2 separate regions of the Homo sapiens genome follow, and region 2 is linked to region 1. The links come from fine-mapping of genetic effects on gene expression. A gene starts in region 1. The other region holds a variant in brackets. All regions are shown on one strand. Distances are between the middles of the regions. Region 1 holds the start of GABRA3 (gamma-aminobutyric acid type A receptor subunit alpha3). Region 2 overlaps GABRA3 (gamma-aminobutyric acid type A receptor subunit alpha3).

Region 1 (11,935 bases):
AAATTTGTTTTTCAATAGTTTGACTATGATATGCCTGAGTGTGGTATCCTGCTTGGAATTTATTGAGCTTGTTGAATCTGTAAATGTATGTGTTTTATTATATTTGTTTTTTTTTCAAACAGCTTTATTGAGTTATAGTTGATATACACAAACCTGCACATATTTAATATATTCAATTTGATGGTTTTTCATCATATTTGCAAATATACAGCCATTCTTTTTAAAATAATTTTTATTTTTGTGGGTATGTAGTAGGTATATTTATGGGTACATGAGATGTTTTGATACAGGCATGCAATGCATAATAATCATATCATACAAAATGAGGTATTCATCCCCTCAAGCATTTATCCTTTGTCTCACAAATAATCCGATTATACTATTTTAGTCATTTCTAGATGTATAATTAAATTGTTATTGATTATAGCCTCCCTGTTGTGCTATTATATACTAGGCCTTATTCATTCATTCTATTTTTTCTACCCATTAACCATCCCTCCCCACTACCCTTCCCAGCCTCTGGTAATCATCCTTCTACACTGTATCTCCATGGGTTCAATTCTTTGATTTTCAGCTCCCACAAATAAGTGAGAATATGCAAAGTTTATCTTCTGTGCCTGGCTTATTTCACTTAACACAATGACCTCCAGTTTAATCCATGTTTTTGCAAATTACAGGATCTCATTCTTTTTTATGCCTGAATAGTATTCCATTGTGTATATGTACCACATTTTCTTTATCTATTCATTTGCTGATGAACACTTAGGTACCTTCTAAATCTATGCTACTGTGAATAGTGCTGCAGTACCAGGGAGTGAAGATATCTCTTTGATATACTGATATCCTTCCTTTTGGGTATAAACCTAGCAGTGAGATTGCTGGATACCATATGAGGTAGCTGTATTTTTAGTTTTTTGAGGAACCTCCAAACCGTTTTCCATAGTGGTTGTACTAATTTACATTCCCACCAACAGTGTACAAAGATTCCCTTTTCTCCACATCCTTGCCTGCATTTGTTATTGCCTATCCTTTGGATATAGGCCATTTTAACTGAGGTGAGATTGTATCTCATTGTAGTTTTGATTTGCATTTCCCTGATGACTAGTGTTGTTCTGCACCTTTTCATATGCCTGTTTGCCATTTGTATGTTTTATTGTGAGAAAAGTCTATCCAGTTTTTTTTTGCCCATTTTTGAATCAGATTTTTAGATTTTTTTCTATAGAGTTGTGTTAGCTCCTTATATATTCTAGTTACTAATCCCTTATCAGATGGGTAGTTTACAAATATTTTCTCCCATTCTGTGGGTTGTCCTTTCACATTATTGATTGCTTCCTTTTCTGGGCAAAAGCTTTGTAATTTGATGTGATCCCATTTGTCCATTTTTGCTTTGATTTCCTGTGCTTGTGGAGTCTTTAGGTTTTTCCAAATATAAGATCATGTCTGCAAGGAAAGATAATTTGACTTCCTCCTTTCCAATGTGGATGCCCTTTATATCTTTCTTTTGTCTGATTGCTCTAGCTAAGTCATCCAGTACTATGTTGAATAACAGTGGTGAATGTGAGCATCCTTGTTGTGTCCCAGATCTTAGAGGAAAGGCTTTCAGTTTTTCCCCATTCAGTATCATATTAGCTGTGGGTCTGCTGTATATGGTTTTTATTATGTTGAGGTATGTTCCTTCTACACCCAGTTTTTAAGATTTTTGTCATGAAGGGATGTTGAATTTTATCAAATGTTTTCTCAGCATCTATTGAAATGATCATATGATTTTTGTTCTTCATTCTGTTGATATGATGTATCCCTTTGATTGATTTGTGTATGTTGAACCATCCTTGCATCCCAGGGATAAATCCCACTTGGTCATGATGAATGATCTTTTTAGTGTATTGCTGAATTTGGTTTGCTAATGTTTTGTTGAGGATTTTTCCATCAATAATTATCAGGGATATTGTCTTGTGGTTAGGCTTTTGTTTCAAATGTTTTTTCTTCCTCTTCTCTTATTGTTTGCCATCTGGGACTCCAATTATGTTTATAACTTTGATATTATCCTATGTATTTCTAACACTCTGCTCATCCTCTTCAATCTTTCTCTCTCTAATCTGTACTTCAGATTAGATAATATCACTAGATTTTTCTTCCAGTGAAACTACTCTTTCTTCTGCCATTTTCAACCTGCCATTAAACACCAACTCACTGAATTTTACTTCAGATATTCTGACTTCCTATTTGTTCATTTATTACACATGTGTTTTTCTTTATTTCCCTTAGTGTAATTATGATATGTGATTTAAAATTCTTTCTCCTAATTCAAACATCTGGTTTACCTTAGGGCTGGTCTCTATTATTATTTTTTCCTTGGATATGAGTAATATTTTCCTATATCTTTGCTTTGGTAGTAATTTTTGAGTGTACCCTGAAAATAGTGAATTATATATTGTAGGATACCTTTATTTTTTTCTCTAGAGCATTGATTTTGTTTGTTTTAGTAGACAGTTAATGGGGCTGAAGTGAAACTCCAAACTCTCCCTCATTGGCAGCACTGAAAACTCTGTTTAATTCTTTCAGCTTTATTTAGGCTTTTTGGAATCTGTTCCCACATAAATATTTCATGGTTTCACCAGACAGCTGGGTAGTTTATACACAGAATTTGGGGCTTCCTCTCCCTAGTTTTTTAAATTATTGAATTTCTCTCATGGCTTTTCAACTACCGTGGTCATCCTGAATTCTGCCGTCTGGTTCTTTCAGACACTTGGACTGTGAGCAGTTGTGTGTGGGAGCTGGCTAACACTGGTTTGTGAATGCCTACTGTGCATATCTCTATTCAACTCCATGTTCATGGAATGGTCCGTGGTAGAAGTATTTACACCATTGAAATTGGCAAATACTATGAATTTGTTTTTTATTAATTTTCCTCAAGATCCAGTTGTTAAACATTTAACAGTTGCAACATTGATTCTAGTTTCTCTAGAGTTTATTCACTGCTTTGGCCTGGGGGCTGCCATCAGACAAAAATTTCCAGAAAAGGAAAAACTCACTTAGTATTGTTCCCTCCTTTCAATTATTAATTCCCTTTCAATTTTTGCCTGTTTATGGGTTGCTTTCCTGTGCATTTAAATTGTTTTATTATATATTTGGTCCACTGTTTATTATTGTTATCTGCATCAGGGTTGGTCTGATAGAAGCTTCTTCACCATTGCCAGAAGTTTTCCTAATAAAGGATTCTGTTTTTTTTGTTGTTGTTGTTGTTTGTTTGTTTTTGGTTTGCAGTCAAGTGGGAAAATTATGAAAATGCTGTGAAGTTTTCATACAGGTATAATTGTATGATTCAGAGAAGAGTTTTTTTGTTCAGAGAGTGTCTTAATCCAACTTATTTATATTAAAATATCTTTTCTTTAAAATAAATGGTGGCACCCAGATGGTTTATTTGTTTGTTTGGTATCTTTATTAGATGAAAAGTTTTCAATTGTAGTAGACTGAATAGTGTCCCCCAAAATTCATGTTCGTCTATAACCTCAGGGTGTGACCTCATTTCAATGGTATGGTATTTGCAAAAGGAAGTAGTTAAAGATCTTGAGATGAAATCATTCCGGATTTAGGTTGGGCCTTAAATCCAATGACTGGTGTCTTTATAAGAAAAAAGAGGGAGATTTGGGCACACAGAAATCAGAGGAGAAGACCATTTGAAGACCGAGGCAGAGATTCAGTGATAAGCCAAGGAACACTGGAAACCACCAGAAGCTGGAAGAGACAAGAAATCATTCTCTAGAACTTTTGGAGTAGTTTGACCCTGCCAGCATCTCGATTTTAGACTTCTGACCTTCAGAACTGTGAGACAATAAATTTCTGTTGTTTTAAGCTACTGAATTTATGGTAATTTGTTATGGCAGCCCTAGAAAACTAATACAGCAACCTTAATATTTCTTTTTGCCAGTATACTAATCTATTAAATCCAATGGACATTTATGCAAACAAATCTACACATGAAAATGGGTACCTATGCAGGAAAAAGTATTTATAGCTTTATGCTCACATACACACTTGCTTTATGTGCAAGTTACATGTTAATTTTGTAGAGAAAAATACTGTACCTGCAGTCAGCAATCTGAGTACTGGCCTTGATTCTGCCACTGACTCACTATGACCTTGTGTGAATTATATTTTCTATTTAGTCTAGTTTCTTTTTCTGTACAATGACATGGTTATCTTTATGGGTCCCTTTAGCTCAGTGACTCTAAGCTTACGAGTACCTATCTATCTTCTACTCAATGTATGGACACATGCTTTTGAAGATGTATAGGAGTGTAGCACATGTACTTCATTTGGCAGGAGTAGAGAGCATTAGAAATTTGGGGGAAAAAAACCAACAGGATGGTAGTTTAAAGAGAAATGGCACACTATGGGCAACATTGTAAATGCCTATTATGTCCCAGTCACTGTATGTATATTGACACTAGTATACTTAAACACACTATATAACTCACTTTCAATTAGATGCCCTCTGAATTTTTCTAACAGGACTAGAAATCACAATATGAAGAGTTTGACTAAGAAAACTTTTATACTAATCATTATATGTAAGCAGATGCTGAATTCTTTGATAGGAACAGCTCTTTATTCACGTGCTTATATTGGTATTATCCCTGAAACACAAAAGATGGAATGTTGAATCAATGTGATTTGGAGTCGCATTTGGGGACTCACCTTTGGAGAACTTTTGAAATGTGGCAGTTTAGTTTTTATTTTCTAAGGGCCAACTTCTCCTTTACCTGGAATTTTCCTGTCTTTAGATTCCTAGACTGTTAGTTCTGGAAGGGTCTTTTAAGATCATCTATTTCCATTACCATTCATTTGGTCACTGAGGATATTGAGGGCCAGATTGAAGAACTCGTTGAAAGCAACACAGCAATTTTCAGAGGCAGAACTCAAACTCAAGTTCCTTTATTTTATTTTTAGCCTAGGTCTTTTTCCACTCTATGCTGCATTGTTACTGTGCTTTGCCTAGGTTGCTTTTTTTCTTTTGACCCAATGGGAATATAGTTCTTTTATACTTTGAGTCAATAATTATCCTTCTCCCCACCTTAGTCCTTGTGCAACTCATGTATAGGCTCACACAATTACATACATCTATATTCCCTTTGGAATTTTTGAAAAGAAAGCATTGTGGTTCTGCTGCTTGTCTGTCTTACCTACAGGGAAGCTAGAACTGATAGTTTTGAATTGGGTCTGCACTTCTACTTGGTTGAGGGTGGGGGTGGAAGTTAGGTCAACAGGGGATCAATGTGGCGGAACTCTTTCTTCTTAGTGGAGTATGAATGACAACCCCTTTGATGTACATTTTTCTAGCTCATTATTGTCCCCAGAGATGGAATCTGAACAGACAGGATTGTCAAACCTTTATTTGCAGCCTGGGTTAGAAGGCACGCCCATAAGGATATAAGGGAGACAGAGGGAAAAAGGAGGAAGCTCACTCTTCAGTCTCGGAGCAGCAAGTAAGCATCACACATCAGCTACAGTAACCCATACTTCCTTTATCCTCCTATTCGCTCATACCCTTTTGCTCTCTTTCTCTTCCCTTTGCTGCCTCTGCTCCTCCCTTTCTCTCTGGGCTTCCCTCTATTTCTCTGTTGGATGCCTTAAGGAATAAAATACTACTTTAGTATTTCGTAAAACAACCACATCTAAAGCCTTGCAGTACTGTATTCAGAGCCCCAGCACAGCCGCGTGCTAAGCACCAGTGGTGAACCTAAAGCCAGCAAAGGGGGAGGGGAGAAGGGGAGGGGAGGAGGGGAGGGAGAAACTGACAGAGAGGGAGGGAGGCAGATTGAGAGAGAGAGAGAGAGAGAGAGAGAGAGAGAGAGAGAGCGAGAGAGCGTGAGCGCGCGCAAGCTAGCGAGCAAACCAGAGAGACAGACCGAGAGAGGGACCAGGAGAGAGACCCAGAGAGAGAAGAAGAAGCCAGAAGCCGAGCTCTGTCAGGGCTCAACCTCCAACTTGTTTCAGTTCATTCATCCTTCTCTCCTTTCCGCTCAGACTGTAGAGCTCGGTAAGAAACATTGATGTTCCTTCTTCCCCCTCCCCCAAGCTCAGGTCTCCTTTAGCGATAGCATCTCTCCCCCGTACTGAGAGTCTCCTTGGGTTGGCCGGGAGGCGAGGCATGCTCTGCAGCTGTGATGCTATCCTGGGTTCCCCAGTGGGGCTGGTGGAAGCCCAGAGGCGGCATCTGAGCAGGGAGACACTGGGGTAAAACCCGATTTGAGGAAGGGGGGTTGCGATGTGGTATATGCGTGATTTGCTTCATTGTCAGTGAATTGTTTTGTTCCTCTTTGGAAGCAGGTCAGCACTGACCTTGCAAATTGCTTGGGGGGCCCCAGCAGCTGCTGCAGAAAGCCACGGAGTGGCCCCTAGCCAAAGCAGACAGCACTGTCATGACCCCCCAGACAGCTCTAGGCACCAGGGATGTAGTAATGGCTGGAGCTTTCTCCCTTCTTTAACTCTTTCTCCGCAGCTGCTTCTCACTGCTGGAAATAAGAAAGAAGGAGGGTACCTTGCAGCCTCTTTCCCCATCTCCCCATTACCTCCCCCACATGCAAGTGAGTAGAAAGTTGTAAATAACTGCTTCCTTTAAAGCAGATTGAGCCCTCCCCCCTTCCTTTGAGGGGCTCACTGTGGGGTTGGGCCTGACTTCCTCCACAAACTTGGGAGGTTTGCCTTGTTTCCCGGCGAGAAGCTCCATTGCCTGCCCACCCTCAATTCCAGATAATTGAGCTGACATCCTAGATCAGAGATTGAGATACCCCACCCCATCTCACTCATAGGCATCATGTTAAGTCCAGCTGTGTCCTTGGAAGGGAGGAAACACCTGATGGTTTGTCTGCAACTGGCCTCCCAGTTTGTTGCTCCTCTGACTGTGGCTGTGGCTGTGGCTGCGGGTGGCATGGGCAAGAGGACTGGGGGAAGGGTGGCTGTTGGATTTATGGAAAGCAGGGTGATGAGGTAGGATTACTAACGTGAGTAGTTTGGCTTATTGAGAGTCAGCAAGTTCTGGTTGTCTGGAGCTCTGCAAAGACTGATTGAGGCTCTTGTAGTATAGCCCTTCAGAACTGGTAGGGGAAGGGATCCAATTGTTTGATGGGAGCTTTCTAAGTGAGTGACGCTGCTGTGCCTGTGGTAGTAATTCTGACATCCCTAATACTAATTGCTAAAATTATCGAGTATGTAGTATATTTTGGATTCTGGGCTGAGTGTTTGGTGTGTATTACTTCATTAAATTACTGTAGCAGAATAGTGCATTGAATAACAGACACTATTATTATCTTTGGTTTACTCACAAAATTGAGGCACAGAGAGGTTAAGTAACTTATCCAAGATTACAGAGCAATTACATGTCTCAGTTGGAAATTAAACTGGCAACCTGGTTCCAGAATCCGTGGTCTTAACCATGAAGCACTACTGCCTTCTTGGGGAGAATTTTGCACCTTTGTCTGTTAGGCAAGTGTAGATACAATAGGTACAGTGTGGCTTGGCAAGGTTTTTTGGAAAGTAGCGGCCTGGCTTTCGTGTAGAGTAACAGCAACTCAGCCTGGAGCCGGGCTTCACCTGGATTTCTGGAGGGGCTGCCCAAAAGACTTTGATTGGTCAGCTTCCTTTCCTTGAAAATCGTACTTCACTTTTTATAGCCTCATCCACCCAACATGCTCCAAACTGCACCTTTTAAAAACAGACCTCATTCTTATTTCCTGAGCATTTGGAGTTGTTCTGTGCCGAAAATTTTAGAATACTAAAACCTTGGAACTGGAAGGAGCCCAAAAGGTCATTCATTAAGCTTTATTTCTCTACTCAGTTCTTGAATTTATCCTAAGCATCCAATTTGTTGACTGATTTCTAGTTGAACTCCCTGCAGTGACAGAGAGTGCATTAGGTGGCTCTTTGTGTCATGGAGCAACTCTGATTGTCAGAAAGTATTCCCCATCATAAGCCAAAGTCTGTTTCCCAGTAACTTATATTCGTTGGTTCTTTGGGACTATCTGGAACAAATTTGCTTTTTCTTAATAATAGTTCTTCAGTTAGTTGAAGACAGCAATCATGCCTCCCTCTTAACCCTTGGATCCAATAAGACCACAGAGTAAAGGATTATCATTTACTTCATGCTGGATATTAGACTATTCTTAATATGGCCTAATAGCCCACTTGTTTTGTTAGCCACAAATTGACCCTACGGAGTTTTCTAGAGCAGCCCTGATAGTGTATATTCTCTTCCTTGGATGAGCTTGCTATCTGGTGTCAACTGGACTGATGGGAGCAAGGAAGGTCGCTTTCATATTCCTAAAGACCAGAAATTGGTTAGTACTAGTCCTTCTAAAGCCCCCAGGATGTCTATATGGCATCCGGACAATAGGCGTGTGGGAAGATTTGAGTGGCAGGAATTTTCATAAAGAAAATTATGAAATTTTCTAATTTCATGAAGAAAAGTACCACATTTGAAATAGTGGTAGTTCAAGGTTCATACAGTATGCAGAAGGTAGAAGAATATATTGTTTTATCAGAAAACACCTCAGGAATAATTACATCACTGAGGGGATACAATGCAGTGGGACTGGGTGGAAAGGGGTGAGTATGTGGTTGCTAGAATGGAACACTGACTTGGCTGTTAGCAAATTTGGGTTCCATTCCTAGCTCAGATGATTTGCTGATTATCTTGGACATATGACTTCCCCTCCATGTGCCTCAGTTTTTCCATCTGTAAGATGTTGAGATGGACTGTGTCTCTGAGGGTCTTTCAACTCTGAAATTCTCTATCTGAAGTAAATTATAAGATTTCAGAGTTATGAGAGGCTTCGGAAATCGTTAGGCCAGTGCTTCTCAAACTTTAATGTGTAAAAATATCTCCTGGGAATCTTGTTAAAATGCGAATTGTGATTCAGAGAGTCTATGGCAGGGGCCTCGGATTTTGCATTTTAGCAATCTATTAGGTGATCCTGAAACTGCTGTTCCACTGACCACACTTCAAGTAGCAAAGCTCTAGTAGAGTACTGGTCAAACTCCCCTAGTGAAGGAAAATGTTTGTTGTCATTTGTTTGTTTGTTTCCTAATCCATCACAGAAGACTGTTAATTTAGTAAAATAAATTAACCATGAATTACTAGAAAATGAAAGAAAAGACATACAAAAGATAAGCCCGCATTTGTATTATTAGATTCTACAGACATAAAATGATTTTTTCAAATTGCTGTAACATTTTCTAAGTGCTTACTCTTGACTTCTGTACTTTGGTCCTTACTGCCTGGTAATAAAAGTTCACAGACAGGCACTGATTTGGCGGGCTACATTTTGAGTGCACTGGTCTAGGCTACCTGCCCATCTAATTTAAGAGGCCCAAATTAGACCCAGCTTTAATTTCTAAATCACCTGTCATGATCTTTTACCCTACAGTTAAATATCTCCTTTAATGAAGAATTTAACATTTACACAAAGTTGCATTGTTCATGTGTTGTGACAGATAAAATGTTTGTTTTTTCTTAAAACTCTTAATTTCCTTAGAGTTTCTACAAATTACGCTTTCAGTTATATATTCCAAGTGGGTGAAGGGCTGTATCAGTTCAGTTAATTATACCGTTAGCCATTAGCCTAGTATATGACATAGAGTAGGAGGCTTAACAGATGTTTTTTAAATAAATGAATGAACCATTTGACATTAGTTGTGGGGCCATACATTCAATAAAGGAAAGGTAATTTGGGCTTTCTTCTGCATTGGGGAAACAGGATTCATCCCATTTTAAAAATTTCTTACAGTGGATAGAAAGCCAACTTGACTACTTCAGAGGGTTACTTGGTATCTCAATTTTATTTTGAAGGGATTGCTGGAGTGGGCCATTATAAGGCTGTTGGTCTTTATTCTAGAAAGAGTGGGACTGATTAAAGGGCTTTGAGCAGGATAACTGACATGGCTTAAATGGAATCTATTCAATATAAGGTTACTAAGTGCCTATGATGAACCAAAGATAATGTGGGAGATACAGGATTATTTAAGAATAGCCTCTGCCCTCCAAGATGACACAGTCAAGTAGGAAAGAGAAGAAATAGACAAACAACTATAGTATTAGGAGATGAGATCTACACCCATAAGAGAGAAGCAAAGGGCTTTAAGGAGATCAAAGACACCTTCCTGGAAGTGGCATTTGAAATGAGCTTTGAAGATGAGACAAACTTTGAGTGTGCAGAATTGGGGGATGGGAAAGGTATTCTATTCAGAGGCTAGTTGTGTTGGAGTAAAGTGTATGCAGAAATACTTATGTGGGATGTGTTTGGCAAGATAGATGGAGGGCTTGACTGTCAATCATACTGAATGCTAGATGGGAAAATTAGGACTTTATATGCAAAGGAGATGCAACTCCCTCATTTTGTGGATGAGCAAACCCATCTTGACAGGGTGAGGGACTTGATTTGCCTGAGGCCACACAGGTAGTAATATTGTTGTAGCCCAGTAAAAGGTACTGAGCACATTTGAAAATATGGGATTGGAACTCTGGAAAGAAGTCAGTAGGAGAGAGTGATTTGAGAGTCATTGCCTCTCAATACTTGAAATAGAATAAAAGAGATTCAGGGGTGGTACTTTGAAGAATGCTTTTTTTTTTTTTAGGATATGGGAGAGAACAATGAACCTTATGTGAAGGCTACAAAGGAGAAAAAGTCAGGGATATGGAAGGAAAATTAGAAGAGTACAGTGTTATGAAGGTGCCAAGAGAGGAGAGGCACCTTCTAATTTATTTCTTGCATACATAACATTTACTAGGCATGGAGAATATAATGGTGAGCAAAACAGACAAAGTTGTTGCCATCCTGGGCTCATGGTTTAGATGGTGAGATAGACATTATTCGACAGACCACTGAACTATGTAGTCATAAATTGTGATTCATATGTAGAGGAAAATGTACCGCTTTAAAAAGAAAGGTGTGGTCAGCATTATTAAACTTCACAGCAGAGTTGAGTAGTGATAGATGATATCTGGTTTATAACAGTCCTTCCCACTCTGATGGTCACAGTGCCTACCAACACTTCAGTTGGATGATGCATACGCATTTTGCAAATGTTTGGCAGATGACTGTGCTTCAATAGTAAGGGAAGGGAAGGGTCCCTCCAGGCTCATGTCCACAGGAGCAGTGACTTACTTAAAAACTAGGTTATATGTCATGTAGCTTAACTGAAATTCACAAAGACCCAGTGCCTTTCCCAGGTCCTCCAACTCTCTCTATTCAGCAATTTATAGGAAGAGGCACTTGATAAAAAATATGAAGAATTTGATATTAAAAATCCCTCTTAAAATGGGATTTCTGATAGCCTAGTCCTGACTTGGATACTCGGTTTGTTGTGACATATCACTTGTCTTGTTGGAGCCTGTTTCCATAACTGTAAAATACGGTGGGGGGAGGTTTGGAAAAGGGTTTTGAATAGGGTGACTGACATGAATCCATTAAGATATTTAGAAAGAGCCTCCAAGCTGTAAGGTTCTATAGTTCATGTTCTGCTCTATATTGTGTTATCATGGTTCTGTGCAGGTAGCTCAGGTTTGGTCACTTCTATAAGCAACACTAATAACTTTATACAGAATTCTGAAGGTTGATAATTTTGGTGGGAGTATTCACAGACTTTGGAAGGGGTCATTGAAATGCACCTTCCATTTTTTATTCCTGAGGTGACTGAAATTGTAACTGTCCTGAGAGTTAAGGAAAGAACTGACCGTATTGTAAAATATATAGTAAAGTTGGATATTAGGTGGTATTTCTATTACTGCTGGTTTGAAATAAACTAAAGTCACTGAGAATAAGATGGGGCATAATACTGTTAAATACACACAAGGTGATTATCTCATTCTGAAATGTAATGGTCCAGGTAGTCTCTTCCTGGGGGGAAGATGTATGTGAAGGGAAATACTAGTTGGTAA
Region 2 (8,000 bases), 210 kb after region 1:
AGAACTTATTTCTCACTGTTCTTGAGGTCAGGAAGGCCAAGATCAAGGCTCCAGTACATTCAGTGTCTAAAGGCTACCTCTCTGCTTCAAATATGGCAACTTTTTGCTGTGTCCTCACATGGCAGAAGAGACTAACATTTTCCTTTAGGTCACTTTTATAGGGCCAGTAACCCCATTCAAGAGGACAGAGCCCTCCTGACCTAATCACTTCTCTAATGCCCTATCACTTAATACTATCACATTAGTGGTTATATTAATATTTCAACATTTTAATTTCAGGGGGACACAAACATTCAGACCACAGCAGGCACTGAAGACATGGATGTAACAGTTTCTGAGTTGGAAAATTTACTCATTGGGTTAGTGTGTTGCATGGATTTCCATCAAAAAGCAAATGACTTACATGTGGTATTCAATCTAGTTCAGGAGACAAGACATATGTACCAGCAAAAATATCCTTAATATGCAAAGCACTGTATAATAAATGCAAAGTAAATACTGGCTTTTGTATCAATGGTATAATAAAATGTTAAAAATCAGCAAATCATACAGTAAGAATAATCTCTGATATGTTTGCTTGTTTTGAAAATGTACTTAGGTATTTCCAATAAAGATGAGATAAGGGCACCAAATAGCCAAGTCACTAATTTGTCTCTATTCCAAAGGTATAGAAAGAAATTATTTACCCTGTGACTTTTAGTCAATAGCAGGGATTTTGAACCCAATGAGATGGCATAGCATAATTGCTGGACCAAATGTTTCAAATGACCATATGCAGTTTATGGTTTACTGCTTGCTTCATTTCCCCTCCCTCCTTCAAGATTCTGATACATATACCTTCTGCCTGAGATGTGTGGAGAGTCAGTGGAAAGACATGAACCCAGTATGCTGAATCTCAGTCGTTAGACTTCTTGTCTTCCCTAGATACATCACTCCTTTTGTAGTATCATCTAGTCTTAGGGCTTCAATTAGCATCTGCAAGGTGTTAGCTAACAAGACACAGAGAACTGAAGTAACTTACACATAGCTACTACTACAAGCTGGGTTCATGGTGGACCTGGGTTTTAAATCTGGCAGTCTGGCTTTGGAATCCATGCTCTGTTTATAATAAATAAATAAAAATAATATGTATTTATGGTGTACAACAGAATGTCTTGATATATTTATGCATTGGGGAATAGCTAAATCAAGCTAATTTTCATATGCATTACCTCACATCTCAATTTTTGTGCTGAGAACACGTAAATTCTGCTCTCAGCGATTTTTAAATATATAAAACACTGTTATTAACTATACTCACCATGTTGTACAATAGATCTCTTGAATTTATTTTTCCTGTGTAACTGAAATTTTATATTCTTTGACCAACATCTCCTCAATCCTCCCACTTCCTGGCCACCATTCTACTCTCTTTCTATGAGTCCAACTTTTATACACTCCACATATAAATGAGATTGTAGAGTATTTGTCTTTCTGAGTGTGGCTTATTTTGCTTAAGATAATGTCCTCCATGTTGTCGCAAGTGGCAGGATTTCCTTTTCTTCTAAGGCCAGGTAGTATTTTATTGTGTATATATACCACATCTTTTTATCCATTTATCCACCAATGAATGCTTAAATTGATTCCGTATCTTGGCTATTGTGAATAATGCTGAAATAAACATGAAAATGCAGATATTTCTTCAACATACTGATTTCATTTCCTTTGGATGCATGTACACACAGTAGTGGGATTGCTGGGTTATATGGTATTTCTATTTTTAATTTTTGAGGAACCTCCATACTGTTTTTTATAATGGCCGTATGAAAGAGTTCTCTTTTCTCCACATTCTCGCCAACACCTATCTTTTATCTTTTTGATAGTAGCCATCCTAACAGGTGTGAGGTAATATCTGATTGTGGTTTTGATTTGAATTTCTCTGATTATTTATGAAGTTGAGCCTCTTTTCATACATCTAAGACAAACATTTATTCAGATCCTTTGCCTATATTAAAAATTGGGCTATTTGTTTTCTTGCTATTGTTGTTTGAGTTCCTTATGTATTTTGAATATTAACCCTTTATTTGATATATAGTATGCAATATTTTCTCCCGTTCCATAGGTTATCTCTTCACTGTGTTAACTGTTTCCTTGGATGTGCAGAAGCTTTTTAGGTTGATGTAATGCCATTTGGCTATTTCTGCTTTTGTTGCCTATGCTTTTGGGGTCATTTGCAAAAAATATCATTGCCCAGGCCAGTGCTGTTGAGCTTTCTCTCTCTGTTTTCTTCTACTAGTTTTATAGTTTCAACTCAAAATATATTGAGTTGACTTTTGAGTATGGTGTAAATGGGGTCCAATTTCATTCTTCTGTATGTGGATATCCTGTTTTCCCAACACCATTTATTGAAGAGACTGTTCTTTCCCCCATAGTGTGTCCTTGGCATCTTTTATGAAAACCAATTGACTGTAAATGTGCAGATCTATTTCTGGGCTCTCTATTCTGTTCCATTGGTCTATGTGTTTGTTTTTTTGTTAGTACCATGCTGTTTTGAGTACTATAGAAATCAAATAGGAGGAGCCAAGATGGCCGAATAGGAACAGCTCCGGTCTACAGCTCCCAGCGTGAGCGACGCAGAAGACGGGTGATTTCTGCATTTCCATCTGAGGTACCGGGTTTATCTAACTAGGGAGTGCCAGACAGTGGGTGCAGGCCAGTGGGTGCGCGCACCGTGTGCGAGCCCAAGCAGGGCGAGGCATTGCCTCACTTGGGAAGAGCAAGGGGTCAGGGAGTTCCCTTTCTGAGTCCAAGAAAGGGGTGACGGACGCACCTGGAAAATCGGGTCACTCCCACCCGAATATTGCGCTTTTCAGACCGGCTTAAGAAACGGCGCACCACGAGACTATATCCCACACCTGGCTCAGAGGGTCCTACGCCCACGGAATCTCGCTGATTGCTAGCACAGCAGTCTGAGATCAAACTGCAAAGCAGCAGCGAGGCTGGGGGAGGGGCGCCCGCCATTGCCCAGGCTTGCTTAGGTAAACAAAGCAGCCGGGAAGCTCGAACTGGGTGGAGCCCACCACAGCTCAAGGAGGCCTGCCTGCCTCTGTAGGCTCCACCTCTGGGGGCAGGGCACAGAGAAACAAAAAGACAGCAGTAACCTCTGCAGACTTAAGTGTCCCTGTCTGACAGCTTTGAAGAGAGCAGTGGTTCTCCCAGCACGCAGCTGGAGATCTGAGAACCGGCAGACTGCCTCCTCAAGTGGGTCCCTGACCCCTGACCCCTGACCCCTGAGCAGCCTAACTGGGAGGCACCCCCCAGCAGGGGCACACTGACACCTCACACTGCAGGGTATTCCAACAGACCTGCAGCTGAGGGTCCTGTCTGTTAGAAGGAAAACTAACAAACAGAAAGGACATCCACACCGAAAACCCATCTGTACATCACCATCATCAAAGACCAAAAGTAGATAAAACCACAAAGATGGGGAAAAAACAGAACAGAAAAACTGGAAACTCTAAAACGCAGAGCGCCTCTTCTCCTCCTCCAAAGGAACGCAGTTCCTCACCAGCAACGGAACAAAGCTGGATGGAGAATGACTTTGACGAGCTGAGAGAAGAAGGCTTCAGACGATCAAATTACTCTGAGCTACGGGAGGACATTCAAACCAAAGGCAAAGAAGTTGAAAACTTTGAAAAAAATTTAGAAGAATGTATAACTAGAATAACCAATACAGAGAAGTACTTAAAGGAGCTGATGGAGCTGAAAACCAAGGCTCGAGAACTACGTGAAGAATGCAGAAGCCTCAGGAGCCGATGCGATCAACTGGAAGAAAGGGTATCAGTAATGGAAGATGAAATGAATGAAATGAAGCGAGAAGGGAAGTTTAGAGAAAAAAGAATAAAAAGATATGAGCAAAGCCTCCAAGAAATATGGGACTATGTGAAAAGACCAAATCTACGTCTGATTGATGTACCTGAAAGTGATGGGGAGAATGGAACCAAGTTGGAAAACACTCTGCAGGATATTATCCAGGAGAACTTCCCCAATCTAGCAAGGCAGGCCAACGTTCAGATTCAGGAAATACAGAGAACACCACAAAGATACTCCTCGAGAAGAGCAACTCCAAGACACATAATTGTCAGATTCACCAAAGTTGAAATGAAGGAAAAAATGTTAAGGGCAGCCAGAGAGAAAGGTCGGGTTACCCTCAAAGGGAAGCCCATCAGACTAACAGCGGATCTCTCAGCAGAAACCCTACAAGCCAGAAGAGAGTGGGGGCCAATATTCAACGTTCTTAAAGAAAAGAATTTTCAAACCAGAATTTCATATCCAGCCAAACTAAGCTTCATAAGTGAAGGAGAAATAAAATACTTCACAGACAAGCCAATGCTGAGAGATTTTGTCACCACCAGGCCTGCCCTAAAAGTGCTCCTGAAGGAAGCGCTAAACATGGAAAGGAACAACCGGTACCAGCTGCTGCAAAATCATGCCAAAATGTAAAGACCATCGAGACTAGGAAGAAACTGCATCAACTAACGAGCAAAATCACCAGCTAACATCATAATGACAGGATCAAATTCACACATAACAATATTAACTTTAAATGTAAATGGACTAAATTCTCCAATT[A/T]AAAGACACAGACTGGCAAATTGGATAAAGAGTCAAGACCCATCAGTGTGCTGTATTCAGCAAACCCATCTCACGTGCAGAGACACACATAGGCTCAAAATAAAAGGATGGAGGAAGATCTACCAAGCTAATGGAAAACAAAAAAAGGCAGGGGTTGCAATCCTCGTCTCTGATAAAACAGACTTGAAACCAACAAAGATCAAAAGAGACAAAGAAGGCCATTACATAATGGTAAAGGGATCAATTCAACAAGAAGAGCTAACTATCCTAAATATATATGCACCCAATACAGGAGCACCCAGATTCATAAAGCAAGTCCTGAGTGACCTACAAAGAGACTTAGACTCCCACACAATAATAATGGGAGACTTTAACACCCCACTGTCAACATTAGACAGATCAACGAGACAGAAAGTCAACAAGGATACCCAGGAATTGAACTCAGCTCTGCACCAAGTGGACCTAATAGACATCTACAGAACTCTCCACCCCAAATCAACAGAATATACATTTTTTTCAGCACCACACCACACCTATTCCAAAATTGACCACATAGTTGGAAGAAAAGCTCTCCTCAGCAAATGTAAAAGAACAGAAATGATAACAAACTATCTCTCAGACCACAGTGCAATCAAACTAGAACTCAGTATTAAGAATCTCACTCAAAGCCTCTCAACTACATGGAAACTGAACAACCTGCTCCTGAATGACTACTGGGTACATAACGAAATGAAGGCAGAAATAAAGATGTTCTTTGAAACCAACGAGAACAAAGACACAACATACCAGAATCTCTGGGACGCATTCAAAGCAGTGTGTAGAGGGAAATTTATAGCACTAAATGCCCACAAGAGAAAGCAGGAAAGATCCAAAATTGACACCCTAACATCACAATTAAAAGAACTAGAAAAGCAAGAGCAAACACATTCAACAGCTAGCAGAAGGCAAGAAATAACTAAAATCAGAGCAGAACTGAAGGAAATAGAGACACAAGAAACCCTTCAAAAAATCAATGAATCCAGGAGCTGGTTTTTTGAAAGGATCAACAAAATTGATAGACCACTAGCAAGGCTAATGAAGAAAAAAAGAGAGAAGAATCAAATAGACACAATAAAAAATGATAAAGGGGATATCACCACTGATCCCACAGAAATACAAACTACCATCAGAGAATACTACAAACACCTCTATGCAAATAAACTAGAAAATCTAGAAGAAATGGATAAATTCCTCGACACATACACTCTCCCAAGACTAAACCAGGAAGAAGTTGAATCTCTGAATAGACCAATAACAGGAGCTGAAATTGTTGCAATAATCAATAGTTTACCAACCAAAAAGAGTCCAGGACCAGATGGATTCACAGCTGAATTCTACCAGAGGTACAAGGAGGAACTGGTACCATTCCTTCTGAAACTATTCCAATCAATAGAAAAAGAGTGAATCCTCCCTAACTCATTTTATGAGGCCAGCATCATTCTGATACCAAAGCCGGGCAGAGACACAACCAAAAAAGAGAATTTTAGACCAATATCCTTGATGAACAATGATGCAAAAATCCTCAATAAAATACTGGCAAAACGAATCCAGCAGCACATCAAAAAGCTTATCCACCATGATCAAGTGGGCTTCATCCCTGGGATGCAAGGCTGGTTCAATATACACAAATCAATAAATGTAATCCAGCATATAAACAGAGCCAAAGACAAAAACCACATGATTATCTCAATAGATGCAGAAAAAGCCTTTGACAAAATTCAACAACCCTTCATGATAAAAACTCTCAATAAATTAGGTATTGATGGGATGTATTTCAAAATAATAAGAGCTATCTATGACAAACCCACAGCCAATATCATACTGAATAGGCAAAAACTGGAAGCATTCCCTTTGAAAACTGGCACAAGACAGGGATGCCCTCTCTCACCACTCCTATTCAACATAGTGTTGGAAGTTCTGGCCAGGGCAATCAGGCAGGAGAAGGAAATAAAGGGTATTCAAGTAGGAAAAGAGGGAGTCAAATTGTCCCTGTTTGCAGATGACATGATTGTATATCTAGAAAACCCCATTGTCTCAGCCCAAAATATCCTTAAGCTGATAAGCAACTTCAGCAAAGTCTCAGGATACAAAATCAATGTACAAAAATCACAAGCATTCTTATACACCAACAACAGACAAACAGAGAACCAAATCATGAGTGAACTCCCATTCACAATTGCTTCAAAGAGAATAAAATACCTAGGAATCCAACTTACAAGGGATGTGAAGGACCTCTTCAAGGAGAACCACAAACCACTGCTCAAGGAAATAAAAGAGGATACAAATGGAAGAATATTCCATGCTCATGGGTAGGAAGAATCAATATCGTGAAAATGGCCATACTGCCCAAGGTAATTTACAGATTCAATGCCATCCCCATCAAGCTACCAATGACTTTCTTCACAGAATTGGAAAAAACTACTTTAAAGTTCATATGGAACCAAAAAAGAGCCCGCATTGCCAAGTCAATCCTAAGCCAAAAGAACAAAGCTGGAGGCATGACACTACCTGACTTCAAACTATACTACAAGGCTACAGTAACCAAAACAGCATGGTACTGGTACCAAAACAGAGATATAGATCAATGGAACAGAACAGAGCCCTCAGAAATAACACCACATATCTACAACTATCTGATCTTTGACAAACCTGAGAAAAACAAGAAATGGGGAAAGGATTCCCTATTTAATAAATGGTGCTGGGAAAACTGGCTAGCCATATGGAGAAAGCTGAAACTGGATCCCTTCCTTACACCTTAGACAAAAATCAATTCAAGATGGATTAGAGATTTAAACGTTAGACCTAAAACCATAAAAACCCTAGAAGAAAACCTAGGCAATACCATTCAGGACATAGGCATGGGCAAGGACTTCATGTCCAAAACACCAAAAGCAATGGCAACAAAAGCCAAAATTGACAAATGGGATCTAATTAAACTAAAGAGCTTCTGCACAACTAAAGAAACTACCATCAGAGTGAACAGGCAACCTACAAAATGGGAGAAAATTTTCGCAACCTACTCATCTGACAAAGGGCTAATATCCAGAATCTACAATGAACTCAAACAAATTTACAAGAAAAAAACAAACAACCCCATCAAAAAGTGGGCGAAAGACATGAACAGACACTTCTCAAAAGAAGACATTTATGCAGCCAAAAAACACATGAAAAAATGCTCATCATCACTGGCCATCAGAGAAATGCAAATCAAAACCACAATGAGATACCATCTCACACCAGTTAGAATGGCAATCATTAAAAAGTCAGGAAACAACAGGTGCTGGACAAGATGTGGAGAAATAGGAACACTTTTACACTGTTGGTGGGACTGTAAACTAGTTCAACCATTG

The links.
Region 2: its variant is fine-mapped to the expression of GABRA3 in esophagus mucosa (GTEx, PIP 0.99).

The regions. Positions count from the first base shown.
Region 1 is chrX:152,445,251-152,457,185 of GRCh38, reverse strand. It overlaps GABRA3 (gamma-aminobutyric acid type A receptor subunit alpha3), which reads left to right and starts at 5,871. Exons shown (of 10, transcript NM_000808.4): 1 at 5,871-6,040.
Region 2 is chrX:152,236,581-152,244,580 of GRCh38, reverse strand. All of the region lies in intron 5 of GABRA3 (gamma-aminobutyric acid type A receptor subunit alpha3), which reads left to right. Among named protein-coding and RNA genes, the nearest start is that of MAGEA10, 100 kb to the right of the region's middle. The variant A/T (reference allele first, on the strand shown) is at 4,612.